Homo sapiens: one gene and its partners. The protein of the gene in region 4 interacts with the protein of the main gene of each other region in a biochemical or structural test. Each region holds a gene or a part of one and is shown on either strand. Other genes may lie near its edges. The genes, in order: ATF6, ATF6B, POU3F2 and NFYC.

What was found.
Region 1: the proteins of NFYC (region 4) and ATF6 form a complex in vitro, tested with the Homo sapiens proteins (one study listed by BioGRID).
Region 2: the proteins of NFYC (region 4) and ATF6B form a complex in vitro, tested with the Homo sapiens proteins (one study listed by BioGRID).
Region 3: the proteins of NFYC (region 4) and POU3F2 form a complex in vitro, tested with the Homo sapiens proteins (one study listed by BioGRID).

The regions. Positions count from the first base shown.
Region 1 is NC_000001.11:161,762,263-161,769,339, forward strand, and holds the start of ATF6 (cyclic AMP-dependent transcription factor ATF-6 alpha), read left to right. Parts: upstream 1-4,057; 5' UTR 4,058-4,098; coding exon 4,099-4,180; intron 4,181-4,186; exon of another isoform or gene 4,187-4,544; intron 4,545-6,765; exon of another isoform or gene 6,766-7,077.
Region 2 is NC_000006.12:32,125,233-32,132,153, reverse strand, and holds the start of ATF6B (cyclic AMP-dependent transcription factor ATF-6 beta), read left to right. Parts: upstream 1-3,907; 5' UTR 3,908-3,946; coding exon 3,947-4,037; intron 4,038-4,403; coding exon 4,404-4,483; intron 4,484-4,633; coding exon 4,634-4,712; intron 4,713-4,959; coding exon 4,960-5,051; intron 5,052-5,901; coding exon 5,902-6,037; intron 6,038-6,921. Other genes in the region: FKBPL (FK506-binding protein-like), read left to right, coding at 2,374-3,423.
Region 3 is NC_000006.12:98,829,589-98,837,573, reverse strand, and holds the start of POU3F2 (POU domain, class 3, transcription factor 2), read right to left. Parts: upstream 3,001-7,985; 5' UTR 2,701-3,000; coding exon 1,369-2,700; 3' UTR 1-1,368.
Region 4 is NC_000001.11:40,764,695-40,771,716, forward strand, and holds the end of NFYC (nuclear transcription factor Y subunit gamma), read left to right. Parts: intron 1-1,901; coding exon 1,902-2,009; intron 2,010-2,223; coding exon of another isoform or gene 2,224-2,280; intron 2,281-4,661; coding exon 4,662-4,721; intron 4,722-5,702; coding exon of another isoform or gene 5,703-6,014; coding exon 6,015-6,134; 3' UTR 6,135-6,909; downstream 6,910-7,022. UniProt on the Homo sapiens protein: Component of the sequence-specific heterotrimeric transcription factor (NF-Y) which specifically recognizes a 5'-CCAAT-3' box motif found in the promoters of its target genes.

The DNA of each region.
Region 1 (7,077 bases), about 120 Mb from region 4:
GTCAGCTATCATAACAACAGATTGATAAATTTGACTACATTGAAATTAAAATCTAGAGAACAAATCACCGTAAACAAAGACGACAAGTGTCAACCTGGGAGAAGGTATTTATAACATATACCAAGCGTTAACTTAAAAAAGCCCAACAATGGGCTGGGTGCGGTGGCTCATGCCTGTAATCCCAGCACTTTGGGAGGCTGAGGCAGAAGGATAGCTTGAGCCTAGGAGTTTGAGACCAGCCCGGGCAACAAAGCGAGACTCTGTCTCTCTCTCTCTTTTAAAAATGTATATATTAAAAAGCCCCACAATGAATAAATTTAGAAAAGAAGGGGAGACTTTATGGCCTGCAAGGTGGCCATCCTGCAGGCTGGGAAGCGTGCCTCCAGAAACAGGCGCTTTGAAGGAGGAGGGCTTGGAGTGTAGTTCAGGCTGAACAGGTTGGCTAAACCTACATTTTCACCAGGTTACAGGAAGAGCTATGAATATTCATGAAAGTGGTCCTGACACATGCGTATTGAACAAAAACTCATGTAACATATGACCCATATTCACTTTGGGATGGAGACTTAACTTTTTTGTTGTTGTTGTTCAGACGGAGTCTTGCTCTGTCACCCAGGCTGGACTGCAACGATGTGATCTCAGCTCACTGTAACCTCCACTTCCCGGTTTCAAGCGATACTCCTGCCTCAGCCTCCTGAGTAGCTGGGATTACAGGAACCTGCCCCCACGCCTGGCTAATTTTCGTATTTTTAGTAGAGATGGGGTTTCCCCATGTTGGCCAGGCTGGTCTCAAGCTCCTGACCTCGTGATCTTCCCACCTGGGCCTCCCAAAGTGCTGGGATTACAGGCGTGAGCCACCACACCCAGCCAAGACTTAACATTTAAATGTATTACGAGCCCTATACGTCAAAAGGTCTTTCAGGACATGAAGCCATGCAAATGTGCGACCTCTGTAGACCAGCCAGAACCAGTCCATGGCCAGTGGTCTTCTTACCTGGAGAAAGTTACTGAAATCAACAAAAAGTTGTCCAATGAAAGCTGTAGCTATGGCTGGTGGAACGGGGACTGGGGGTCAGTAAGTCAGCATCTCGTGGAGCTGCACATTATTTTAATATTGTTTATCTTTAGGCCAGTACTTGTTTAGCTGCTAGAGAAGAATCTTGTGGCAGTTAGAACACAGTTTATTCTTTAAGTATAGGGGTGTGGGACTAAAACCTTGCCTGGAATGGCTTTAGGTCTTTTTTATAATTTGGCATCTTATTGCCAGAGTCTGTTCTGTCAGTCTTATCATCTCTGTTTTAACATTAATGCTGGCCAGTTGTTGTGTTAAACTACAAAAGGGAGGGAGTATAACAAGGTGTGTCTAACCTGTCCCATCGTGGTCTAGAACTCAGTTTTAAGGTTTTCTAGGATCCCCTTGGCCACAAGGGGGCCTATTCTGTTGGTGGCGGACTTAGGAGTTTAGTTTTACTTTATACAGGTGAATGAATAGAGCAGGCTATCTAATGACGTACACATCATTTGTGAAAGAAAACTCCATAGCAAACTTTATAAAAGGTAAGAGTGGACAGTTCACAGAAGAGGAAATAAGGTTTCATAAGTATGGAAGAATGCACCACTTTGTTAGGGAAATGTAAATTGCAATTTTCACAGCGGTAAAAATGGTAAGAGTCTGACCATATCTTGTGTTGGAGAGAATGTGGAACAAAGAGAACTCATCAATGCTAGTGAGGGTGTAAACTGATAAAATAGTACATACATTATTTAAGACATTCTTGAGGCTGGGTGCGGTGGCTCACGCCTGTAATCTCAACAGTTTGGGAGGCAGAGGCGGGCGGACTGCTTGAATTCAGAAGTTTTGAGACCAGCCTGGGCAACATGGTGAAATCCTGTCTCTACAAAAAATACAAAAATTAGTCGGGTGTGGTGGTGGGTTCCCGTAGTCTCAGCTATTGTGGGGAGAGGCATGAGGATCGCTTAAACCTGGGAGGTCAAGCTGCAGTGAGCTGAGATGGCTCCACTGCAATCCAGCCTAGGGGACAAAGTGAGCCCCTGTCTCAAAAAAAAAAAAAAAAAAAAAAAGAGGGAGAGAGAGAGAGAAATTGAGATTCATTCAAGGAAATACCATGGGTAGATCCTTAATATCCAATAAGAAAAATGATTTGGAGAACATTAAAGTTTACATACATTAAAAAAACCCAAATGACACTAAATGCATGTGTCTATAAACATGTTTAAGCACCGTAAAACTAAAAATAAAAGTGGACTAGAATTACACTTTTATTTTTATAAAATAAAATTTTATACCCATAAAATTCATGGTAGAAGTGGCCTACGCCAAGGGAGGAAAATGAAGCAGGGAGGAAAGAGGAATTCAATTCTGTAGTATTTAATTTCTTATGAAAAATCTGGGACAAAAATGAAAAATGTTAAATTTTTAAATTCTTGGTGATAGGTCACAAATGTTTGTTTCATAATTACTTGCACTTTTTGAATAAAAATAAAATCTTTTGGAAATTAAAAAAATTGGCGATTTGTCATGGTGATTTTCTTAAAAGACTAAGGTGTCTAGTGGGATACAGAAGACTCGATGATTTTATTTTATTTTAGGTTTTTTTTTTTTTTTTTTTTTTGAGACGCAGTCTCGCAATGTCGACCAGGCTGGTGTGCAGTGGTGCGATCTCCGCTCGCTGCAACCTCTGCCTCCCGCGTTCATGCGATTCTCCTGCCTCAGCCTCCCGAGTAGCTGGGATTACAGCTACTTGCCCGCCACCACGCCTGGCTAACTTTTTGTATTTTTAGTGGAGACAGGGTTTCACTATGTTGGCCAGGCTGGTCTCGAACTCCTGACCTCGTGATCCGCCCGCCTCGGCCTCCCAAAGTGCTGGGATTACAGGCGTGAGCCACCGCGCCCGGCCTTATTTTAGTTTTTTATGTCAATTTTTGAATTTGTAATTGGGTGAGAATTAAAGTGTTATAAATTTCACCTTAAGTGAAAATTTATTAGTTTTCTAATGACAAAAGTAGTTACATCTGACGTAAGGGGATTTAATTATCTTTTTCTGGGCTTGCGTCCCGGAACGCTGCTGCATTATGTAATCTGTAGTAATATACCCACGAGCAGTTTGGAGGGTTCTGGGAAGCACATTTGTTTTGCTTACCTACCATGGGAAAGATTCCACGTGGTCCTAGAAGCATACGTATTCGTCGGTTACAGTATTTTAAATATTCACTGGCCGCTGAAATTTAAAATGGATGAAAAAGAAATTCTCTTAAGTAGCGTTCTTGAAACTGCTTTATCAAACTCAGTTCATATTTTCAGTTGGAGTTCGTGATGTATGTGATTTTCCTTTAAATAAAACCCGAATCTTTAGTAATACAAATATTGGGAACTTCGATTACTGTAGGTCTTAGGGTAGACTCGCTTGGACTTTGACTAAATACTATGCTTTAGAAATTTATCTTTAGGAGATAAATTTGGGGGGTTTATCTTTTTATATTTGCTTTGTTTCAATTTATTTAAATAAAAGTAGTCTTTCTAGAAGTATGTTTTATAGTACCACTTACCTCGGTTACTGTCCCAGTTAAGCAGTTTTCACGAATGTGGAAAAATAGTAGTGTTTTTCTTTCATACACGCGTATATGAAAAATTTTTACATTGATAGAGAATTATTCGTAAAAATTAAAGTAAATTTACTGTTAGTCTCTAATTTTGTTCTGAGATAGCCACGCTGTGGCATTAAGAAGGATAATCAAGGAATAAGCCATAATGTTCAGAAAGGGGCTTTACTTTTTATTTTTAATATTATTGATAAACTTTGTTTAGTCGAATTGATGTCTGCGTGTCTTCCCCCGCCTTCCCCATAAAACAGCGGGACAGAAAGTCCTGAAAACTCCAAAAGGGAAATATTTACTCAGAGGTCTATTCAAATTTGCTTAGTCTCTGACGTTTTCCTGTGTCGTACAAATCCCTCGTGCGGCAAAAGTAGTTTGTCTTTACTAGGCCACCGTCTCGTCAGCGTTACGGAGTATTTTGTCCGCCTGCCGCCGCCGTCCCAGATATTAATCACGGAGTTCCAGGGAGAAGGAACTTGTGAAATGGGGGAGCCGGCTGGGGTTGCCGGCACCATGGAGTCACCTTTTAGCCCGGGACTCTTTCACAGGCTGGATGAAGATTGGGGTGAGTGGGATCTGAGAATGTACCAGGGTGGCTCGGGTTCGCGTCTAAAGGTTTCTTCCTCCCTACTTCCGCCCACTCGTGGTGACAGGTGTGGACCAACCCTGCCTGGGGAGTGAGGCCCCTCGTCACTCCTGTTCGTGCCCCTGGAAGAGTCTGGGAGTATCGTTCGGCTTCTGTCCTGGCCACAGGGAGAGTAGAATATTGTCTAACTGGAGTTAACTGTCGTTTTTCACTATTCCCACTGGGGAAGTACCGGGTGATCTTTTTGTGTGGCTAACACTGGACGTCTTTAGGAGGTTTAGAGCAAAATGGCTGGGACCGCCAAAAAGGCTACAAGCTATTTCCTGAGTGTGAAATGTGGGCGGTGAGCACAATGGAGTGGGTTTTTGTGTGTTTGGTGTATATGAGAGAATGTGGTTATATACAAGAAATTCTAATCTTACAGCTTTTACTATTGGTTTAAGCCTGATGTCCGTCTTGGCAGAAAAGCAAAACACCCAAGCACCTGACCTCGGGTCCCTGCTTAGCTACACCTAATACTTATGGTGTAATCCTGACTGCTCTCCAGATACAGCTCTTAATTTTCTTGTTAATGGATATTTTGTTTGGTTTTGGTGGTCAGGAAGGGTGGAATGGGATGAAGTGGAAATGAGAATGAAGAAACTTTGTTATCTAAGTATTTAGAGGAGACTTTTATTCTCCTCTTGATTGCAAGATATAATAGTAATATTGTTCTTAGGTTCCAATATGAATTTGGGATTGTGTAGGTTCCCAAATGGGCCCGCTAGTGAGCCTACACCACTCATCAGCCTTGGAACTGGGGGGAACCCAGTTTATCTTTCTCCCTTGGATCAGCATTCTCAATAGCAGGAGTGGAAGGAATCTCAACTTTTTATTGAACAAAGTCATTTAATTGTTTCAAGGACAGATGTTCTCTAAAACTATATTCTATTGGAGATTTATTTTAATCCTTGGGTAGATTTTTTAAGAGTTGCTGGAAAACTTAAGATTTTTTATTCCCATTTTCCCAAGCCAAATGCATTAGTGACAGTAACCATTTATTTAGCTCTTTGTGTCAGGGACCCTGTTAAACTCTTGACATGAAGTATTTTGTTTAATCCTACCAACAGTCCAATGAGGTACTGTTTATTTTAGAGATGAGGAAACTGAGGCTAACAGAATTTGTGCTCAGATTCTTAGAGCTAGTTAGTGGCAGAAGAAGGATCAGACCAGGTTTTTCTACCTCCAAAGTCTGTACCCCTAGCATCTATTCTATAATGCTTTCCTAACTCATGTCTACAGATTTTATTCTTCCTAAGATCCCTGGTTATTAATAAGACTACTTGAATATATTGGGTAGTTATGATTTATTTTGTCAGCTAGTCAGCTATTATATTTTCATGACATTTCTTTTCTTTACCTCTTTTTTTGAGATGGAGTTTCGCTTTTGTTGCCCAGGCTAGAGTGTAATGGCGCAATCTTGGCTCACCGCAACCTCCGCCACTCGGGTTTGAGCGATTCTCCTGCCTCAGCCTCCCGAGTAGCTGGGATTACAGGCATGCACCACCACGCCCGGCTAATTTTGTATTTTTAGTAGAGACGAGGTTTCTCCATGTTGGTTAGGCTGGTCTGGAGCTCTGGACCTCAGGTGATCCGCCCACCTCGGCCTCCCAAAGTGCTGGGATTACGGGTGTGAGCCACTGTGCCCGGCCAGTGACATTTCTTAAAGTATAACTGTGGGACACTTCCTGGTAGCATAATTTTATGTCGTCTTCTGATACCCAGGCTGCATTTTCCAGACTTATCTGATCACTTGACTTAATGTTCTCTAACAGAGCATTCAGTTCTTTGTAGTCAGTTCACCGACTCACTTCTATCGGGTATCCTGCCCTGTCCCTCCCTGAATGTGCCCATTTCCATTGTTTTCCAGGTTTCCCTTTTCAAACTGTTAACAGTCTTCTCTTCTTTGAAGACTTTAATTTAATTCCTTAGGTGTTCAGTAAGTAGGATAGATTTTGTTGGCAATAGAGTGAAACACTACTGTCTGATAGTGTTTCGTTCTGTGACAGTTGCTGTTTTGGATGTTCAAGTACTTCACTGATTTACTTGATTTTGTTGTTGTTGTTGTTGTTTCTTTTAGAGACAGGGTCTTGCTCTGTCGCCCAGGCTGGAGTGCGGTGATGCAATCATAGTTCACTGTGACCTGGAACTCCTGGGCTCAAGTGATCCTTCCATCTGAGCCTCCTGAGTCGCTAGGACTACAGGTGCACACCGCTACCATGCCTGGTTAATTTTTAATTTTTGAATTTTTTGTAGAGACAGGGGTCTTGCTGTGTTGCCCAGACTGGTCTCCAACTGGCCTCAGTCATCCTGCCTCAACCTCCCAGGTGATGGGATTACAGGCTCAAGCCACTGTGTCTAGCCTTGATTTTTTTTTAATATTAGACACTATCTAGTTAAAATTTAAAAATCAGATTATGTAATTAGTATGTCCTGTGATTTTAACAACTCTAAATAATTTAAATAAAGTGATTAACTCAGAACAGCCTGTGAGGGATGTGCTTTCCTTTTTCTTTTTAACTTAGGTAATGAAATTTAGAGCAAGAGTCTTCAAACATTTTCTGTAAAGGTTCAGATAGTAAATATTTTAGGCTTTGTGATTACATGGTCACTGTTGCAACTACTCAAGTCTGCTGTGATAGTGCAGGAGCAGCCAGAGACAGCATAAACAAGTGAGCATGGCTGTGTTTCTATAAAGCTTTATAGACACTGAAATTTGAATTTCACATAATTATTTTAAATAATAAGCCTACTTTTTTAGTATAATTATAGATTTACACAATAATTGAGCAGATAGTACAAAGAGTCCACATACTTCCCCTTCATCCCCAGCTTCT
Region 2 (6,921 bases), on a different chromosome or scaffold from region 4:
TTTGGGAGGCTGAGATGGGATGATGGCTTGAGGCCAGGAGTTTGAGACCAGCCTGGTAAACACAGCAGACCCCATCTCTCTAAAAAAAAAAAAAAAAAAAGAAAAACATACGGTTTATGAACCAGCAGCATCTGCATTAACCAGCTTATTGAAATGCAGAATCACAGGCCCCACAACAGACTTCCTAAATCATAATCTGCAACTTAACAAGTTCCCTAGGTGATATGTATGCACACTTATGTTTGAAAAGCACTAAGATTTCTTGATGAAGGAGGACTTGAAAGGCAATGATGGATGTGAAAGGAAAGGTAAAGAGAAGCCTCAGGTAGTCACCCAAGGGACAGGGCCGGTTGGAGAGAGAGTCCCGAGGTTTTATCCTGGAGAACACCCTGTACTGAATGAGCTCTGAACATAAAGATAGTTAGCATAGGAGGGCCTGAAGTCTCCAGATAAAAGGCTGCTGCCACTATCATTTACCACGACCTCTGCCATTCTCCACTCTATTGTCATCCGCCCCCAGTCTCCATTCCAGGACTTCTCTACACTTTGACTTTTTGTTTGTTTGTTTGTTTGTTTGAGACGGAGTCTTGCGCTGTCGCCCAGGCTGGAGCGCAGTGGCACGATCTTGGCTCACCGCAAGCTCCGCCTTCCGGGTTCATGCCATTCTCCTGCCTCAGCCTCCCGGGTAGCTGGGACTATAGGTGCCCGCCACCACGCCCAGCTAATTTTTTGTATTTTTAGTAGAGACGGGGTTTCACCATGTTGTCCAGGCTGGTCTCGAACCCCTGACCTCAAGTGATCCCCCCGCCGCCCCGCCCCCTCCCCCCGCCCCGCCCCCCCCCGCCGCCTCGGCCTCCCAAATTGCTGGGATTACAGGCGTGCGCGATGCCCGGCTTTTTATTTATTTATTTATTTATTTTTGAGGCGGGAATCTTGCTCTGTCGCCAGGCTGGATTGCAGTGGCACCATCTCGGCTCACTGCAACCTCCGACTCCCTGGTTCAAGCGATTCTCCCACCTCAGCCTCCCAAGTAGCTGGGATTACAGGCACACGCCACCATGCCCAGCTAACTTTTTGTATTTTTAGTAGAGACGAGATTTCACCATGTTGCCAGGATGGTCTCGATCACCTGACCTCGTGATCCGCCCACCTCAGCCTCCCAGAGTCTCAGTTGCCAAAGCTGGAGTGCAATGGCGCGATCTCGGCTCACTGCAACCTCCGCTTCCCAGGTAAGCCATTCTCCTGCCTCAGCCTCCTGGGTAGCTGGGATATAGGCGCCCGCCATCACGCCGAGCTATTTTTGCATTTTTAGTAGAGACGGGGTTTCACCATGTTGGCCAGGCTGGTCTTGAACTCCTGACCTCAACCTCCCAAAGTGCTGGGATTACAGGCGTGAGCCACCGCGCCCGGCCCACCTTTTTTTTTTTTTTTTTTTTTTTTTTTTGTTTGAGACGGAGTCTCTAGTCTCGCTCTGTCGCCCAGGCTGGAGTGCAATGGTGTGATCTCGGCTCACTGCAACGTCTGTCTCCCGGGTTCAAGCGATTCTCCTGTTTCAGCCTTCCGAGTAGTTGGGATTACAGGCGCGCGCCACCATGACCTACTAATTTTTGTATTTTTAGTAGAGACAGGGTCTCACCATGTTGGCCCACTTTGACTCTTGAGCAGCCTGGCCAGCCCGACCGCGCCAAATTCTGTTCGATTCTGCCTAGTTCGGTTGCTCTGGCCTAGTTCAGTTGCTAAGGCCTGGAGCTTCATGGTTGCGGAGGAAATGATGTCACGTTCAATAGGCGGGCTAACCAGATTCCTCCCTTCTCCCGATTGGCTGCCAGGAATTTGACTAGATTCGGAGTCTCGCGGGCTCCAGGGTTAGTTGTCAGTATCTTTCCCAGTTGTTCCGCCCCCTACCCCCGCCTCCCGCACCGCGCCCCTCTCCGGCTGCCCTCTCCGCGTGGGGCAAGGCTCCGAGGGCAGCATTCAGTAGCCATTTAGCTTTGGAAGGAGAGGTGATTCGAATGGCCCGGCTCCTCCTGTCACCATGCTAGGCACTTTGGCCGCGCAGGTACTTATTGACCCGACCGGGTGTCCGTAGTTGGCGCGGCTACCTTAACCGCAGGGAATTGTGGAATTTATAGTTCTAAATTATATGTGGGTGGAACGGGGAAGCTGGAGCAGATTTTTGGAGGAAAGCAAAACTGGGGACTTTCAGGACTAGGGGCCTGGGTCTCAGAAGAATGGGAAAGGACGAGAAAGGAGTCTAAATAAGAACCCTGCTATTAGCATTGTTTGGTTTTCTTTTCAGGTGCTGACCTGAACCTGGTTCATCCCTTTCTGACCAAAACTGTTCACTCACCGTGGAAGGGACTAAGCATCCATATGGAGACGCCACCAGTCAATACAATTGGAGAAAAGGACACCTCTCAGCCGCAACAAGAGTGGGAAAAGAACCTTCGGGAGAACCTTGATTCAGTTATTCAGATTAGGCAGCAGCCCCGAGACCCTCCTACCGAAACGCTTGAGCTGGAAGTAAGCCCAGATCCAGCCAGCCAAATTCTAGAGCATACTCAAGGAGCTGAAAAACTGGTTGCTGAACTTGAAGGAGACTCTCATAAGTCTCATGGATCAACCAGTCAGATGCCAGAGGCCCTTCAAGCTTCTGATCTCTGGTACTGCCCCGATGGGAGCTTTGTCAAGAAGATCGTAATCCGTGGCCATGGCTTGGACAAACCCAAACTAGGCTCCTGCTGCCGGGTACTGGCTTTGGGGTTTCCTTTCGGATCAGGGCCGCCAGAGGGCTGGACAGAGCTAACTATGGGCGTAGGGCCATGGAGGGAGGAAACTTGGGGGGAGCTCATAGAGAAATGCTTGGAGTCCATGTGTCAAGGTGAGGAAGCAGAGCTTCAGCTGCCTGGGCACTCTGGACCTCCTGTCAGGCTCACACTGGCATCCTTCACTCAAGGCCGAGACTCCTGGGAGCTGGAGACTAGCGAGAAGGAAGCCCTGGCCAGGGAAGAACGTGCAAGGGGCACAGAACTATTTCGAGCTGGGAACCCTGAAGGAGCTGCCCGATGCTATGGACGGGCTCTTCGGCTGCTCCTGACTTTACCCCCACCTGGCCCTCCAGAACGAACTGTCCTTCATGCCAATCTGGCTGCCTGTCAGTTGTTGCTAGGGCAGCCTCAGTTGGCAGCCCAGAGCTGTGACCGGGTGTTGGAGCGGGAGCCTGGCCATTTAAAGGCCTTATACCGAAGGGGGGTTGCCCAGGCTGCCCTTGGGAACCTGGAAAAAGCAACTGCTGACCTCAAGAAGGTGCTGGCGATAGATCCCAAAAACCGGGCAGCCCAGGAGGAACTGGGGAAGGTGGTCATTCAGGGGAAGAACCAGGATGCAGGGCTGGCTCAGGGTCTGCGCAAGATGTTTGGCTGATTAAAAGTTAAACCTTAAAAGAGACAGGAACTTGTGAATTGTGGTCTGTGCTGTGAGATTTGGGGGTGGGGGGCCAGAGGGAAGGTTTCAGCCCATATCCCATTCTCAGCTTTTGGCTTCCTAGGGGAGGTAGCAGTGGTCACAGTGCGCCCCTTTTGAGGGGCTTATCTATCTCCGAGGACACATAGAAGCTGTCTAAACTAAACTTAGTAGTGGCTGGGGGAGATGGTGGACCTTAATACTGGGTACTACATCTCCCAGGCGCTTTATCACTGGAGCCTGTTTGGCGCATGCGCTTGGCGGTATGGCACTGTCTGGAAGTTACTTCCTGCTGCTGTGCTCCCATTGGGCCCGCCTACACAGTCATCCGCATCTGTTGATTCACGTGCTCAGCACCCAGGTCTCTTACTGGTCGGTAGAGCTTCCGGGACGCCCCCTTTTTTGAAAGAGTCAACTGATTAGTTGGTGATGGGGAGAGGCGGGCCTTGGGAACCGTCTCCTGGTTGGGGGGTGGGGGGGAAAGATGGCGGAGCTGATGCTGCTCAGCGAGATTGCTGACCCGACGCGTTTCTTCACCGACAACCTGCTTAGCCCGGAGGACTGGGGTCTGCAGAGTGAGGCACCGGGGAGGGGAGAGGGCTGTGGCAAACTGTCCCTGAGGCACGCGGGAAAGAAGCGGGGGCCTAAAGAGGAAGTCTGGGCAAATACGGAATCCGCCATCTGAAGGAGAGCGGAGCAGGGGGCTCGTTGTGCATTAAGGGGGATACAAAAGTCAGGGAAGAACTCTGCTCCCTGCTGGAACGTCGAGTTGTTCCGGGGTCGGGGAAGGAGGGGCTGAAGCGCCCTGGTTGTATCACTTTTCAAGTGGGCGGGCGGTGGGTCTGGCCGAGCGGAGCCAATGAGGGATGGGGCGGGGGCTTGTGTGCGATCTGTAGGCTGGGGCCACCGAACGACCCCCCGACGCTCAGCATTTCTTGCAGACAGCACCTTGTATTCTGGCCTAGATGAAGTGGCCGAGGAGCAGACGCAGCTCTTCCGTTGCCCGGAGCAGGATGTCCCGGTATTGTGTCCCCAGCCTTTCTCTAACCCTTGGTGGGTGGAAAGTGAGCCCAGAACCTGGACCCATTCACAGGCCATAACTCATCTGGAGTCACCCCTACTTTCTCATCCTTTCTCACACTCCTGCCCTCTTGTATCCTCCCTTATTTAGTTTGACGGCAGCTCCCTGGACGTGGGGATGGATGTCAGCCCCTCTGAGCCCCCATGGGAACTCCTGCCGATCTTCCCAGGTAAGGTAGTCTTTGTCGTTCCCTCAGATTTCCAGAAACCCTCATCTTCCCACTGTTTCCCAGAAACTACGTAGCTTCCTATATCCTCACGCTTCTACATAAGTGCCTATCCTCTCTCCTTCAATCCCCTATTTTTGTTTCTTCTCCCTTGCTGCGGTACAGGAATCCCCACCGACATGTCCTTGGGTACTTTTTGGACTCTTCTTAAGCTCTGCTTCCTGATAATTTCTAACTCCCTTTCCTCCAGATCTTCAGGTGAAGTCTGAGCCATCTTCCCCCTGCTCTTCCTCCTCCCTCAGCTCCGAGTCATCGCGTCTCTCCACAGAGCCATCCAGCGAGGTGAGAGAGCCATATCCCTCTTACTCTCTGTGACGGGGACTCTGCTTCATTCCCTTCACCCGTGGGTGACAAAGAAATGATTTAAATGATTTGTGTGCTATGAGTCATGAGGTGTGTGAGGTGTGGGGGGCCTTCTCCACTACCTTTGCCGTTTCCTTAATATCTTCATTTTCCACATCCCCTTTGGTTATCTAGCAGTGAAGATTTTTTTGTTTGTTTGTTTTTTGTTTTTTGCTTTTTTTTGAGATAGGGCCTCCCTCTGTCACCCAAACTACAGTGTAGTGACAGGGTCACAGCTCACTGTAGCCTTGACCTCCTGAGCTCAGGTGATCCTCCTGCCTCAGCCTCCTGAGTAGTTGGGACCACAGACACATGCCACCATGTCTGGCTAATTTTTTTTATTGTTTGTAAAAATGGGGTCTTCCTATGTTGCCCAGAGTGGACTTAAACTCCTGGGCTCAAGTGATCCTCCCACCTTGGCATCCCAAAGTGCTTGGATTACAGGTATAAGCCACCACGCCTGATCTTGGGTCTTTTTAATATAAAGAGTTATGTGGGGCTGGGAAGAAGAGAGTTATTGACTGCTGAGAATTCTGGAACTGTTCTTGCCCAAGTTGTCCACTCTGAGGCCATATTTGAAGTCATGAGACTTCATCAATTCTCCCAGAAATAAAGTAGAAAGAATGAACAGGTTAGAAAGATGGTCAGTACCATTCAGACCAGAATGTCAAATAATTGATGGCTTGTAAGCCCTAAACTTCTAAAGCTTTTGTTCTCGCTCTTACTGTCAACATCTCCCTTGTTTTTTGCCCTTCTTTCTGCCCCCTGCCCCACACCAACTCTCACCCAGGCTCTTGGGGTAGGGGAGGTGCTCCATGTGAAGACAGAGTCCTTGGCACCCCCACTGTGTCTCCTGGGAGATGACCCAACATCCTCATTTGAAACCGTCCAGATCAACGTTATCCCCACCTCTGATGATTCCTCAGGTAATAAAACAGCCTGCCCCCAATCCTTGGCTCTACTACGGGAGAATGTGTTATGTGTGTGTGTGTATGTGTGTAGATGGAGGGGAAGTGCAGGCAGCAGGACAGGGAGAAAAAGGTGGGGAGGGGAAATGGCAGAAAACCAGGAGGGAAGGCAGGAAGGAGAGGAAACATTTCAGGGAACCACAGCAAGGGCAGTGCTGAGGAGATGGATATTATTTTTCTCTCTTTTTCTTGTTCCTAGTATTCTGTCATGCCATTCAACTTACTTTTTAAAAACTTGTGAGCAGTTTAGGGCATATGTATCTGTGTGATTCCCCTCCACCCAACATTTTATTATAAACATTTTTGTTGTTGTTGAGACAGAGTCTCACACTGTCGCTCGGGCTGAAGTGCAGTGGTGTGGTCTCAGCTCACTGCAACCTCCACCTCCCAGGTTCAAGTGATTCTCCTGTCTCAGCCTCCCAAGTAGCTGGGATTACAGGCACCCACCACCACGCCCAGCTAATTTTTTGTATTTTTAGTAGAGATGGGGTTTCACCATGTTGGCCAGGCTGGTCTTGAACTCCTGACCTCATGAGTCGCCTACCTCCGCCTCCCAAAGTGCTGAGATTACAGGCGTGAGCCATCGCGCCCAGCCCATAAACATTTTTAAACATACAGAAAGGCTAGAACACCATATACTAAACTAGATTCTACAATTAACATTATTTGTTCTATTTTTAAAGTGTTCCCAAGTTTATTTACTCGTAGCTGTGTATTTAGTAAATGTTTATTGATGTGATCATATCTGAGGTATAATAATTATAAAAAAGAAATATTTATTAAGCACCTACTCCATGCCAGATACTGAGCAGCATGCTGGGAATGCAAAGATGAACAAGACC
Region 3 (7,985 bases), on a different chromosome or scaffold from region 4:
CTTGATAAACAAATGAGCTAGTGAAGACAAAACCTGTCTACTGCGTGGAGATCGTCAGTGTATGCTGTGGGTATCTGTGTGCTAAAAAACACAGTCTTATGCATACACTATTAAGTTCCTGGGTCTTTTTTTATGTAAAAAAAAAGCTATTAGAGAAACAAAGTTTAACTGCTGCTGTCAGCACAAATAATTCTTCATAATTGTTACTAAAACTGAAGGTAGAGAACTATATAGGGATATCTGAAGATATGTACTTCCCTAGTTCTCTTCAAAGTGCCACTTTCTTTCTGCTGGACAACTCTGGAAATATATTTAACCTCCACATTTCCCCTGAGCTCTTTCACAATGGGCCCGCCTGATAAAATGAAGCAATCAGTCACTCACTATCGATTTTTCTTTTTTCTTCCCTCCATAACCTCCCCCAGAAACACTGCCTGAAAATGAAGTTTACTTTGTGGCTGGTAAGAACAACCAATGCTTATTTTTATATTCCAAACCGGATTCTTGCCTTCGATAAAGCGGGTAGACCATGCACATTTCCTGAAATCAGAGAATTGTCTATTTTGTATGAAGCCAATCCTTTTGCTTTGGTAAGAGGAACAAATAGATGTTACACCCTCGTAAGGGGAATGTGAAGGTAACCAAAGTTCACAAACAGTACGAAGAAGGGGCAACACAAGAACATTAGAAATGGAGAGTGGCCAAGAGCTGGCTTCAACTCTCTCCGATGAATAAAGCAAAGCAAAACAAAATCCCCCAAAACGGCAACTCCCAAATTAACGGTGGGGAGAAAGAGAAAATATGCTCATGAATTTGTTCACGTAAACTTCAATTTTCTTGCAGTGCAAATTTATGTGGTTAAATTTTGCCTATATGAAAGAACATGTGTATTTTTTCCTCTTTCCTGATGGGAATCCACAATAAATAAACACAGCAGCATGTGCCAACTCTAAGCATCAGGAAGCTGCATTTTGTGTTTATCATGGTTTGGTGGATTTTTTTTCCTTTTTGGTAATTTATTTAGTTTTGCCAGGTATTTATCTCAGTGCTTGCCATCTCTCTGTCTCTCTCTCTTTCTAGCTATCACACACTCTCCTCACTCTCTCCAGGAGACACTCCACTCCATTGCCTGGTTACTCGCCTGCAAAGGTCAAAACACATCATTACACCTGCTACCTTTAAAGGATAGTCCAGTGTCTTAGTTGCTTTCCTTTTGCCTTATTTTTTTTGTCTTTTTAAGGGACGGGGAAATAATAATTAAAAATAAAAGAACAATCAGAAGTTAGAGAGGGAACAAGAGGGCCGGGAAAGGGCCAAGGACCGAAGGGGAGGGGGAGCCCCGCGCTCTGCCCCTCCCCCAGCTCGAGTTCACTGGACGGGCGTCTGCACCCCGTGGTGTGGTGGAGTGTCCCTACTCCCCCCGTACACATCCTCGGCGCCCGGCAGAGTCCCTCCGGGAGGGGTCATCCTTTTCTCTTTCTGTCTCCTGTTACAAAACCAAACTCTCACCACCTCCTTCTCCAGCTGTAAGCTGTCCGCGAGGGAGGTGATCTCCTGGGCCGAGGGCTTGGGGCATTTGAGGAAATGGCTCTCCAGAGCCCCCTTGACGCTCACCTCGATGGAGGTCCGCTTTTTCCGCTTGCGCCCTTGCGCTGCGATCTTGTCTATGCTCGTGGGGCTGCCCGAGGACGAGTCCGCCTCCTCCAACCACTTGTTCAACAAAGGCTTCAGCTTGCACATGTTCTTGAAGCTCAGCTGCAGGGCCTCAAACCTGCAGATGGTGGTCTGCGAGAACACGTTGCCATACAGGGTGCCCAGAGCCAGCCCCACGTCCGCTTGGGTAAATCCCAGTTTGATCCGCCGCTGCTTGAACTGCTTGGCGAACTGCTCCAGGTCGTCCGAGGTCGGCGTGTCCTCGTCCGAGTGCGGGTCGTGGTGCGCGCCTGGGTGGCCAGGCGGACCCTGCGGGGGCGGCGGGGGCGGCGGCTGCTGGTGTGGGTGCGAGTGCGGGTGCGGGTGGTGGTCGGCATGGTGTGGCTCGTCGTGCGCGTCCCGCAGGCCGTGGTGGTGCAGACCGGCCGGCTGCCCGCCGGCGCCCAGCATGCCGTTCACCGTGAAGCTGGGCTGCGAGTAGAGCAAGCCGCCGTTGGACGCTCCCATGGAGGGTGGGAGGTGCGCTGCAGCCGCCGCGCTCCGCCATGCCCCGGGTCCCGGGTGGTGGTTAGCGGCGTGGTGCACCAGATGCGGCGGCCGCTGTTGCTGCTGCTGCTGCTGCTGTTGCTGCTGTTGCTGCTGCTGTTGCTGTTGCTGCTGCTGATGCTGCTGCTGCAGGGCGCCTGGCCCGTGCAGCTCGTCTCCGCGGCCGCCCTGCTGCACCACCACCGAGGGCTTGATGTCCGGCTGGCCCAGGGGGCTGGTGGACCACGGGGAGCCGTCGCCGCCGCCCCCGCCGCCGCCCCCGCCCCCCCCGCCGCCGCCACCGCCCCCGCCGCCGCCGCCGTGGGACAGCGCGGTGATCCACTGGTGAGCGTGGCTGAGCGGGTGTCCGTTGCTCTGCAGAGCGCCGTAGTCGCCCTGCACCAGGCTCTGCGCTTCGCGGTAGCCCCCCGCGCCCTGCTGCATGCCGCCGGGCGGCTCGGCGTGCACGATGGAGGCGCTGGAGGTGAGCAGGCTGTAGTGGTTAGACGCTGCGGTCGCCATGACTCTCGGAGCCGGACTGAGCGCTCCGGTTAAAGGAGCCGCGCATTTGACAGTTACTTTTTCGCCTCGGGCTCCCTCTCCTCGCTCGCTCTTTCTGTCTCCTCTCTCTCCCACAGCGGGCAGCTCCGACGCCCGCTCCGACGCCTTCTGTTGCTGCTCCTGCTATTACTGCTGCTGCTGCCGCCGCCGCCGCCTCCCGCCCGCCCTCGCTCTCTTTCTCCTCCTCTCCCTCCTTCTCGCTCTCGCTCACTCTCTGACTAGCTCGGCGCTCCCCCCTCTCCCTGCTCTCTCCAGCTCTCTCCCGCTCTCTTGGCAGCGCCGGCTCGCAGCGGCACGCGCCTGGGCCCCGCCCCCTCCGCCCCCTCCCATTGGCTCCGCGCCCTTTGATTTACGTGGATACCGCTAGCAACCTCCCAGGCCGGCGCCACTGATTGGCGCAGAGCTACTCCCTCCCCCTCCCCCGGGCTCGGAGTCCTCCTAGCCCTCCTCCCCGTCCCCTTCGCCTCCCGATTCAGATTCTCTCAGTTCTCACCCCCCCGCTTCTTCCTCACCCGGGGCCTCCTCCGCCCTCTCTCGGATGGGCCCCGCCCCCCATCTGTCTCCCAGGCAGAGAAGACCGGCAGGGGGGCGGTCCCGGTGCTCTTATCGGCCACAGACACTTGGAAGACTTGGATTGGGGTGGGGGGCGGGAGGCAGTGGTGTCCACTTTCGTTTCCCAATAGGGCTTTAAGATGGGGAAACGGAGGGGGTAAGGGAAAAGCTGGGTCGCACCGAGCCAGCGGGAGTCGGATTTTTATTCACCTAGGGACACACACACAGTGTGTATCTCTTAAACCTAGAGCCAAGAGCCAGACCTGTTCCCCTGTTCAACTCTCCTTGCATCCCACGGTTAGAATTTCAGTGCACAAGTGTCTCTTGCTCCAGGGTGTGCGGACACTTCGGCCCAAAGCTCTTCTCCTTCCCCTCTACCCCGCGGCTAGCACAGGCTCTCTTCCTTTTAGGTTCCAGGCCCAATTGTCTCCCACTCCCTTGGGGAAAGAACCCCGAGAGAGGCAGGCTCAGCCCGCACCGCGGCTTGTAAGTCATTCCCATCAAGGCTCGGAGTTGCTTGCTCTGACAGCGTAGCGGTCTGAACTGAAAACCAAACAAAACTCTAAAAGTCTCTCCGTCAGATTCACACGCCGGCGCGTGCAGTTTTTGGTTTAGAAAACTAGAAGCCTGCGTGGGCTCCGTCTTGTGCGAGGCTGCCGGAGTGCTGGCGAGGGGTGTGCGGCCTTGTAGGGGCGGCGCAGTCGCCAAAGGCCGCTCCGGGAAGCCGCGCGGAGGGCCTGCGTGCGCGATTCCCCGTGCTCCTACCGCTGGTAGGTGCAACTTTTCCGTTAGCCCCTTGGGAAGGAGGAAGAGTGTGTGAAGCAAATGGGCTGATGCCAGGGGAACCTTCCTAATCAGTAACTTCGGTGGGCGCTAGCGGGTGGGGTTAGTCTATGTCTTTGGCGCTCCCTGGCCAAGCTCCCAGCTCAGCTTTCAGCAGTGAACTCCAGAGCAAGACTATGGGACCATGCACCCGCAGCGCCGCTCTACGGAGCGCGGGCGCGTCGCGCCATCAGTTCTTTAGCCGCCCAGAGCAGGTGCCGCCTGCGAGTTTCCGAGCCTGCAAGCCCGGTAGCTAGAACTTGGGCGCGGACCCAGGCTGGAGCGGCGTGACCGCCACGCAGGGCCGGGTGTGTACATGGGCGCTGTAAAGCGAATCAACAGTTACTGCCGGGAAGGGAATGACAGACCCCAGGGAACCTGGATCGCGTCCCCACCTCTCACCCCTCGCTCTATCGCTGGTTTTGCCGGCGGTCGTAGGCTTGAGAGGGCAGCCAAATCAACGCTCAGAGGGAGCATTTTGGGGCCTCTGAGCATCTGAATCCAGACAGCAGACTGGAGCGGGCCAGAAAATTCATCATGACTAACAAGGAGTCATGCTCTTTGGAGAGTGGCTGAGCTGTTTATAAATCACCACGTTGAGCACCCGCCCGGGCAAGACGCTTTGGCTGAGAATTTCCACGTGTCCTGTGTTTATGAGCGTGTGTGGGGGAGAGAAATGGATAGGGGAGGGGCGAGCCCACAGGCCGCCAGCAGGACGGACCTGCACCCCCACCACGCGCGCACCCGCGCGGCGAGGCGAGGCGAGGACACACACAGCGTGTCGCTCCGTCCCAGCGCAAGCGCGGGGCCACTCTGGCCGCGCGCCTGGGGGCTGCTAGGAATCCCATAACTTTGTCTAGCTAGGAAAAAATGAACAAGTCCGAGCCTCAGCGCGCAGACTCAGCGACTGGTGCCCGCGGCTCCGCAACCGCGAGCCAAGGGGCTGGGTGGCGGGCAGAACCGCCTTCTCCCGGCTTCGGCCCTGCGTCCCCTGTGCTAGGCGCGTGACTTTCCCTGGGCCTTGGGGAGCGCACAGACAGCCCGCCAGCCGCATCTTCTCCTGACATGTCGTGCCTTTCTTTTCGCGGACCTGGAGCTCAGAGCTCCCACGGACAGAAGAATCCAGCCCTGGGGAAGGGCCGCGTCCAAGTGCTAAGCAGCTCATACTTCTCCCCCACCTTTCTGGGGCAGGTGTCTGCTTTTCTCTGGATTTAATTTCACATTTCTCGAGGCACAAGGCCTTCTGCAGCCCATAGGATGATACACTCGAAAGAAGAATGAAGTTTTCAAACACATCTTCGAAGGAACTGAGGCGGCCTGGCTCTGAATCAATTTAAAAGTTCCTCCTCCTCTTATCTTTCTCTCCACACCCCACCCCACACCCCCGCCCTCCTCCCGGCATAGGGCGCTAGTGTGAGGGGACAAGAATAGGCTGCACGTGTACATCAAAACTTCCTGTCTGCGATAGGACATCACCGGCGATTAATGCTGAGATCCTTCCCACGTTGACTTCCCAGGTCTCAACTCCAACTTCCATCCCCGTCTCATTTCGCTGGCGGCCAAGGAGCCGAAACGTTCCCAACAGGGTTTAATATACCCAATAAATCCCCGGGAGTACACAAAGAAATAGCCTACCCGGGGCCTCAGTCTCTGCACCCCACCCCCACCCCCAAGCGCGGCCAATCACCGGGCGGGCCAGGCTGGGCTCGCACCGCGGCTCTGAGCAACACCTCCCCACGAGCTACCGCCGCCTCCCCTCCAGGCGCCAGGGGCCCGGTTGGCGCGAACGCCGGGTTCCGAGCACCCTGGGCTTCCTTGTCTGCCTCCCAGCGCGGCACCTCTTCGGGGCTCCCGAAACCTGAGCTCTCGCTGGTTTTAGGTCCAGACTGGGGCCTCTCCACCGGTTCCTCCCCCGCCCCGGGCTCTGGGGCCCATTCTTTGGGCTGACCCTGTCAGGGCAGAGTCCGCGCGTCTGCCTGCCATTCTCCGCCCGCATAAAAGCACGTTGAAGGTGTCTCGGGCAGACACCTCCAGGTTTTGAATCAGTTTATTCCCTTTCACTGTTCAAAGCAGCTGTTCAAATACACAGGCTGCTTACGTTGACGTGGAGAGGATTTCAAACAACGCTAAAATGCTTTGAACTGACAAGGTGTCTTGATATCTCCCTCACTCCATCCAGCACAGCTCCTCGAGATCACTCGCTAGGACAATGGCTGAGCAGGCGATTCGTGCGGGCCTCGCCACCTCGGGGCGCGGACTGCGGGGTGTCCTAAGCCCCTTCCGCAAGGACAGGATGGAGGCACCTGTAAGGAGATGCTGGCGCCACCCCAGCTTCTCCCAGGTCCGGAGGAACCTCTACTCAGTCAATACCCTGAGCTGGACTTGTCTGAAGAAACGGAGCCGACTCCCTCTTGCCGGGGTGCGCTGAGTGGAGGGGAAACATCCTCGAATAACAGAACTACACCAAAAAGACACCCATGTTATCTCTCACACTTTCACACTCCTCGAGATAGTGAGCCGGACCTGGGTCTTAGTAGCACCCAGTACCTTGACACAAACCTCCCAAATTTCCACCTGAGTAACAGTTATGGGGTCAGTCCATGCACTGTAACTTGAACTCTAATTTATTAACTATTTCATCTAGTAAACACACTCACACCATATATAAAATAGCATTTATTTATTTCTATATACCAGGAGTTGGCAGAAAACCCACCGTGACCACTCCCATACATTGAGCTGGAGGCACACAATTACTAAAACAGAGGTGAAATGGTATTCATTTGATCTTAATTTTTTCTTATTTATGTAGTCCCAGGATAATAGAAATCAGGAAACAAAAGAAAACAAAGAATTTTCTGAGGAGATGGCCATTGGGGGAGTGGAGGTAGCAGCTGGTTTAAACCTAAGTAAAACTAGAAAAAGAAACTGCTGTTTCCTTTTTCTTATATCCACCTTAGAGGATCATGTTTGAACGTCCCTACTCCTCCTCCTCTTTTTAAAAAGCCTTGTCTCAGTCATTCATTCCTGTGCTTCCTGCTCTTCTGCTAGACCCCAGCAGCTGTTTGATTTGGTGAGGCCCCCCTCCAACCTCTGAGTGGAACTTCTTTTCTAAGGGCCTGCAGAATGTCAAAACTGAGGCTCTGGCTTCGGAGCTAGAGCTTTGAACAGCCAATCCACACAAAAAGGCAGCTGGCTGCTTTAATGAAAACTGCTATAAAGCTTCAAGAACTTTAGCCTTGGGGGATGCATTTATAAGGAACATGGAAAATGCATTTCCAAGTTGCTGGTTCTTGGGAGAGACATAATAAACATTTACCAAAAAAAAAAAAAAAAAAAAAAGGATAGAACTTACTATCTTTAATTATGCAGCAGCATATTTTTTCCTGAAGAAATAAAGCTTCCAATAAATTTGTATGTTACTGTCTATACCTATATTTTGCAAATTCCTAAATGTGCATCTGTCCTTGTGTAATAAAAGGTCTTGAAGAATGAAAAGTTTTCTGAAAGTTGAAACTCTCCTACGTCATATGCTTGGCAACTCTGTCCATACCTCACATACAAACAATTCTATTTTACCTTCACTACTGTGTAAACCAGTGAAATATAATGTCCTTAATTCAGTATTTGAAATAAAATTATCTGTATTTATAGATACTAATATCTTTCCCTTTTTCTTCAAGTTATAAATTTTATCATTAAAACAGTCCCCCCTTTGTAGTCTGCAAGTGAATATTTTATATACAGGGATGGCTTGAAGACATCTAACACCATGTCACCCAGATAGTCTAGCTGTTTCAAGGATTACTTTGAGTAATTTATCAAAGGAAGCCTGCTAAATCCTGAGCGGTGAATATGAGGCCTTAGGAGGG
Region 4 (7,022 bases):
TGTTCCTAATAGTGATGAGCTTCAGGAAGGAAACTTTATTTCCCTTTCAAAAACCCAGAGCTTATTTTCTCTGTAATTAATGTAAAAAAGCTATGAGGGTCCCCAGACCTGTCCTGCTGTAGAGGAATGAGGGACGGATCATCACCAAATGTCTTAACCTAGGCCAAAAAGGAAAGCTTCTTGCTTTGTTGAAGAGCTGCTTGGAACCATTTGGCTCACAGCTTTTCAGTCACATTTGGGTTTCTGCAAAGAGCTCTTCCCAGCTAGAAAATTTTAACATCCCTGTAGCTGTCAGTATACCTTCTCCCACTCCTGGGACAAGGCTTTAGTTTTTCATCTTGTGATCCCTGGCTGGAGTTCTGGGGACTCCTGGAACTAGCCACCATCAGTCTCTGTAGATGAGGTTTTCCAAACTTCTGCCCAGCTGCCTTCCTCCCCACAAGCAACTTAACATTGTTGCCAGGAAGCTGCATTATAGGATTTAGGTGGGGAATTCAGGCTTGGCACCACAGCCTCCCAGCAGCTTCTCTTGGCATATTCTCAGGAAAGAAATGACTGCAGGTCCTAATACTCTTGCCCTGTCTCCTTTGAACCAGATTTTTAATGGGTTTAGATTGGGTGTCCCTCCATCTTGCCTCAAGTGGGCAATTCTGGAATGGTCTACCGTGAACTTGAGAGGTCGTTTTTTCTCGGTAGTTCAAATTCTGTGAGGCTGGAAGTCTCAGAGAAGCATTTTGATTGAACACTGCGTGCAGGAATGCAGCTTCATCCCATTAGCATTTTCCTCATGGAAGAGTCCTGCAGTGAAGTTAGCTCTTGAAGGCCAGAGGGAAATTTGCTCCAGAGCAGAGGCAATACTTGCCTGTTAGCCACAAGAAGCTTCCCCTTGCAACAAAGGCAGGCTGGGCAGCCAGGGCAGGTGGTTTCTGGACCCCGCAGATAGAGACCTAGTCTATCCATGCTCCCAGAACCCCTTTCATTTCCTCTAAATTGAGGGTGTGAATGTCTGCAGTCCTCCTCTGCTGACCATCATCTTTGCTGAGCTACAGTTCTCTGATGTGGTAACCGCCTTGGTCCTCTTTTCATCCCCAGCTCAAAACACTAATACTTTCATGGTACACTGGAGCATTAAGAGCCTGAGTTAAGGCTTTTAGCACACAATTAAATGCAGCATGTGGTATTATTGTATTATCTGAGATTTAATCGTAAGCATGAGAGACTCTAAGGGCGCTTTCGTAGCTTTGGTTTCCCATGATGGGGTTTTCTATGAAAGGTTTATTGATTCTGCTTCCCCTTGGGAGGTGTTTGGCCAGAAGCTAGTGCTGAACACCAAAGATCCTAAAAGCCCCACAGACCCCCATCCAGCCTGGCTCTTGGGGACAGAGATGGTTAAGCAGTCCAGCTTTTGCCTCCAAAATGTGCAGCATGGGGCAGGGCAGTGTGAGGGCTATGATGCGGAATGATGGCTGTTTGCTTTGGGATCCTGGCAGATGCTGGATCTCTTTACAGATGGGAGCGAAAGAGGCCCACACTTAATGTACAGGCATTCTGATGATGTCAGTCAGATAAATTCCTAAGATAAGCTGTGATCATGTAGCTAAGAGCTGGCAAATAATGAGCATGCAGCCATGCTGTTCTCACCTTTGTGACAGGATCTTCTGGGAGTTTTTTCTGAAGTCCATTCAGGGAATATATTCTCTTCTGTGCTGTGTGACTTGTGGGATGTGGATGTTCTGATTTTGCTTGTTTTGACCTCTGTTTAAAAGGGACTTTTTTCAGGGCAGGCTTCTTTGGAGGGCTTGAGGGGTAGGGGGCAATCAACATCTCTGGTCATGGAAAGTTTGCCTGTTTGAGATTATACTCAATGTCTTATGGTCTCTTTGTCTCTGCCCCTGCCCTAGGTGCAGCTGAATGCCGGCCAGCTGCAGTATATCCGCTTAGCCCAGCCTGTATCAGGCACTCAAGTTGTGCAGGGACAGATCCAGACACTTGCCACCAATGCTCAACAGGTATGTGCCCCAGAGACACAAGGCCTGTGTTGGAGACCAGGAGCAGATGGCTTCTGACAGGAAAGGAGCGCTCAGCACACAGCTGTCTTGCCACCTCATCCTTCAACCAGAAGCACCACCCCCACACCCTCCATATCCTTCTGCACCCAAGAGGCATGGGTGGTAATTGGAACATTAGATTCAAAGTGTTTTCTCTTACCATCTTGTTCTCAAGGGGCAAAGAAATGCAAGTCAGGGGAAGCCTCGAAGGTGCCTGAAAGAAACCTTACAGGTGTGCACACCCATCAGACCTGGGAAATGTTCGACAGATCGCCTGATCGTCAGGCTGTTTCCATCTTTAAACCCAAGTGGCTGTTGTGTTCTGGCACCTCCTGTGCTCTTTGGAAAGCTTACTTAGATTTTACCCCTACCTCCTCTTGCATCCCTAACCAGAAAAATTGCCCTTCTCCTCTCCTCTCGTGCCCTACAATATTGATGGCTATGAGTCACAGATGGTGAGGGGGCTGCCTCCCTGGGCTTGGGGGTGTTGAGGGACATGGGTATTACTTGCAGAAGATGGGGGGTGCTGGTCAAGGGGAGGCATTGTTAATGGATTCTTTTGCCTCAGACCCAAAAAAAGCAGCGATCGTTTAAGAGCTGGACCCGTCTGGCCCAGTTGCATTTCTGGTGATGTATCTATTGACAGTGGTGACAGAGCTGAGTTTGTAGAGCAGGTCTCCAAAGATCTCATTTGGGAAAATACGAGGAATGAGCCAAAAGCAAGGCTTCTGAGTTCCATATAGTCTCTGGGATCATTAAGGGCTGTTTCTGTGCCCACTCCCCGGCTTACCTAAGGACGCGGCTTTTCCGTAGCTGATACTGACTCACACCCTTCCCCCAGCCCCTCTTTTTAACCTCATAAGATTCTTCCCTGGGATCCAAAAAACATAACGGCATGGGAGTGGGAGGAAATGAGAAGGAAGCTTCTTGGTTCCTCAGAAGTCAGTTTGGGGCTGGGCACAGTGGGTCACGCCTGTAATCCCAGCACTTTGGGAGGGAGGCTGAGGCAGGTGATCACATGAGGTCGGGAGTTTGAGACCAGCCTGGCCAACATGGCAAAACCGTTTCCACTAAAAATACAAAATTAGCTGGGCGTGGTGGTGCATGCCTGTCATCCCAGCTACTTGGGAGGCTGAGACACAAGAATCACTTGAACCCAGGAGGTGGAGGTTGCAGTGAGCTGAGATTGTGCCACTGCACTCCAGCCTGGGCGACAGAGTGAGACTCTGTCTCAAAAAATAAAAATTAAAAAAAGTCCGTTTTGGGAACAGAACTAAAGCCAAAAAATGGGAGAGGCTGGGGAGAAGCAAGAAAGTGGTAGCTGAAGGCAATGAAAATCTTTGTAACAACAGGTTGTAATTATGACAACCTAATACTTAGTAGGTGCTCAGTAAATGTTTGTTGAATGAAGCTGAATGAATAATATGTAAATAAAATGTAAAGGTAAATGAAATCTCAGCTAATATGAATGGCAATCCTGCTGGCCACAGAGCAGTTAACCTTCTTATCTATGTGGAATATTTTCCATTTGTCTCAGGCTCACTTGTTTATTCTGCAACATTTCTGGAATACTAACTTTGTATGGGCTCCTGCCCTCAGGCATCTTATAGGCTGTTGGAAGGAAAAGGACCAAAATAAGGAACAATAGTAAAAAATAGTCATGAAGCCTGTCATACCTGTTCCCTTTCTTGTTCCTCATAGCCTCATGGGTAGGCCTGCAGGGGTTGTTTTTGGCCATGGTGAGGACATTTGAGAGGACAGTCCTTGTCTTGCAGGCTGGCTGTGATGATTCCAGGAAATGGTACACAGAGGACACTGCTGGCCAAATGTTCCATAGGAACACATGTGCATGCACACCGCAGTCTTCTTTCTAGTTTACCGAGCTGCTCCCAGCAGTTGTCATTATATATGCAGTTCTACATGTCAGTACATTTATCTAAAATCCATTCACAGTCCACACATAAGATTTTAAGTACTTGTGATAAATGTTGTCTTTGTTCCACTCCCGGTCCCTCCCCTTTTCTCCTCCCCTCCTTTGGCCCAGAGGGCTGCACAGTGCCTCTCTCGGAAAAAGTACTTCATAGGTTTGCCATGAGGACTGCTGGGACCAAGGCCACTTGCTCGCCAGGGTGTTTCATATTCCAGTCAGATGATCTGGGTGATACGGGTTTGGTTTGGAGCCCACCTTCCAAGAATGAAAGAGGCCACTTACCACTTTGTCTGACACTTTGCAGTCCGCCTTCACTGGCTGAAAGACTGACTCTTAGGACTTCTACCCCAAACCATAGCACCTAGGGTCCATGTGTTCTGTTTGAGCCTCAGAGTTTGAGATGAGTGGGTGGTTGAGGGAGTAGGCATTCATTAGAGAGATGGGTGTGGGAACTATCTATTATGTGCTCCAGGATTCTCGATGTCACTTTGTGCTGCCAACTCTTGACGTAGCCATCAGTGCTAGATTAGGAGGGGTGCTTGCTTGCTTACTACCCATTGAGCACCTGCTGGGCACTTTATATGCATTGTCTCATTTGATCTTTATGACCCTCTTTTGGGTGGTGGGCTGGTGGATCAGACCCTGCAGCTGACATACCAACTCTACCATCTTGATTCTTACAGATTACACAGACAGAGGTCCAGCAAGGACAGCAGCAGTTCAGCCAGTTCACAGATGGACAGGTAGGGTACCCAACCTGGGCTGGGCAGAGGGTGAGGATTTGCGGGGCAGGGTAGCAGGTAGTATCTGGGTTTGGATGGTTAGGGCAACTGTCCTGTCCTCTACTAACAGTGAGTGGACAGAAATTGTTAAAACAAGTACGGTATTTAAATCAGGGCACCTATCCTTTAGTTTTATAGACTTAGTGGGAACTAAAATAATCTTAGACATGTAGCCCAAATTGCCATTTTACAGATGAGTAAACTGAACCCTGGAGATGGGAAGTGCCTTGTCCATGCTCCCCTAGATGTTCATTGCAGAGCCAGGACTAGAGAGCAGGTTTCCTGTTTCCCTCTCTAGAACTGTATTTTTTTCCCCTCTAAGCCATGATGCTGTTTTAATAGCATGGACTGTTGAGACGCAGAGAACACGTGACCTCTTGAGCTCTCTGGGTGCCTGAAATTCAGTCATTTTCAGTCCATGCGAGGAGAGAATCTTCCCTTTTCCCTCTGCTTTCCCCTCACAGTACAGTCCCAGAGACCACTGAGGACATGATAGGATGACATGCCCAAACTTGTGCCCTCTGCTGCTCAAAAGGGAGAAGAGCTGGCATCAGGACCCACCTCTGGCTTCTGCCAGCACCACATGCTAGGCTTACATGCCAGGGCTCCCATGAGGGCTTGGCTTTTGGCTTCTTTGGGGAGCGCCTGGGAAACCAAGTAGTCAATTAGCCCTGACCTTCCTAAGTGGCTGTGTGAGTATCTTCTCCACCCCTGGAGCGTCTTGGCTATAGTTAAGTGTTTAATACCAGGCCACCTCCTTAGCAGGGTCCATGGAGAAAATTCAAATTCAGTTTAGTTTCAACCTGAGCCAGATATTCTGAGAAAAGAAGGAGAGGAGGGGGTAATCCTACTGCCCCTGCCAGTGTAGATTACCAAGAGTTGGGGAAATGCTGACTTCCAAGCTGCTGGTACAGTGGTTCGAATTGCTTGTGTTTGCCACAGAGGAACAGCGTGCAGCAAGCTCGAGTCTCTGAGCTAACGGGAGAGGCAGAGCCCAGAGAAGTGAAAGCCACAGGAAATTCAACTCCCTGCACCTCTTCCCTGCCCACCACACACCCCCCCTCACACCGGGCTGGTGCCTCCTGTGTCTGCTGCTCCCAACCCCAGCAGAGCTCCACTTCCCCTCCTCCTTCTGACGCCTTGCAGTGGGTGGTGGTTGAGGTATCTGGGACCCCCAACCAGCTCGAGACCCATAGGGAGCTGCATGCCCCTCTCCCAGGGATGACCTCACTCTCTCCTCTCCACCCCTCGCAGCAGCTCTACCAGATCCAGCAAGTCACCATGCCTGCGGGCCAGGACCTCGCCCAGCCCATGTTCATCCAGTCAGCCAACCAGCCCTCCGACGGGCAGGCCCCCCAGGTGACCGGCGACTGAGGGCCTGAGCTGGCAAGGCCAAGGACACCCAACACAATTTTTGCCATACAGCCCCAGGCAATGGGCACAGCCTTCCTCCCCAGAGGACCCGGCCGACCTCAGCGCCTCCTGCAGGCTAGGACACTGGTGCACTACACCCCATGCCTGGGGGCCGAGATTCTCCAGCAGAAAGATGCAATATTTTTTGTTTCCTTTTTTTCCATTTTTTTCTCTAAGGAATCAATATTTCAATATGTTGAGTGTGTGTCCAATGCTATGAAATTAAAATATTAAATAACATATTTATGGCATTTTCTTGAAGAGTGTGGTTGAAGAAATATTTCTCCTTTTGTTTTTCTTTTTTTTTTGTTTGTTACTGCCACTTCTTTTTAGGAGCAAATCTCCCCAGGGGTGTACGGTATTTCTTGACTCTGGGAACAGCTGCTACCCCCAAGACTTGCCACGTTGTTCTGCCCTCAGATGGAATTAGGTGAATGTGTGTAGCTGCTTTTTCACTCGTGGTCCTCTCCCCATCCCTTGCTCTGACCCCAGAGCTCTGTGTATTTGCATCCAGAGGCCATGGAAACATTCTTTGCATTTAAGAGACAGATTTATTCCCTGTGGAGAGTGGGTGGATTCATTGCCACACTCTTTTCTCCCAGGGACCCAGGAAACTAGGACTTTGTGTGTTTGCTGCCCACCTCCCTTTTATTTTTTAAATGCATTAAAAACTGTGCTAGTCTCCTTTGCATGGACTTCAAGCTGCATGAAATGCAATAAATCTCATTTTAGATAATTTAGAGTCTGGGTTTCTGTGTCTGGGGGCATTCATGGGGCCACTTTGCTTGGAAAGGTTCATTTGCCCTCAGTTTGTGTGTCTGGGAGAGAGGGCCACCCTTGTGAGAAGGA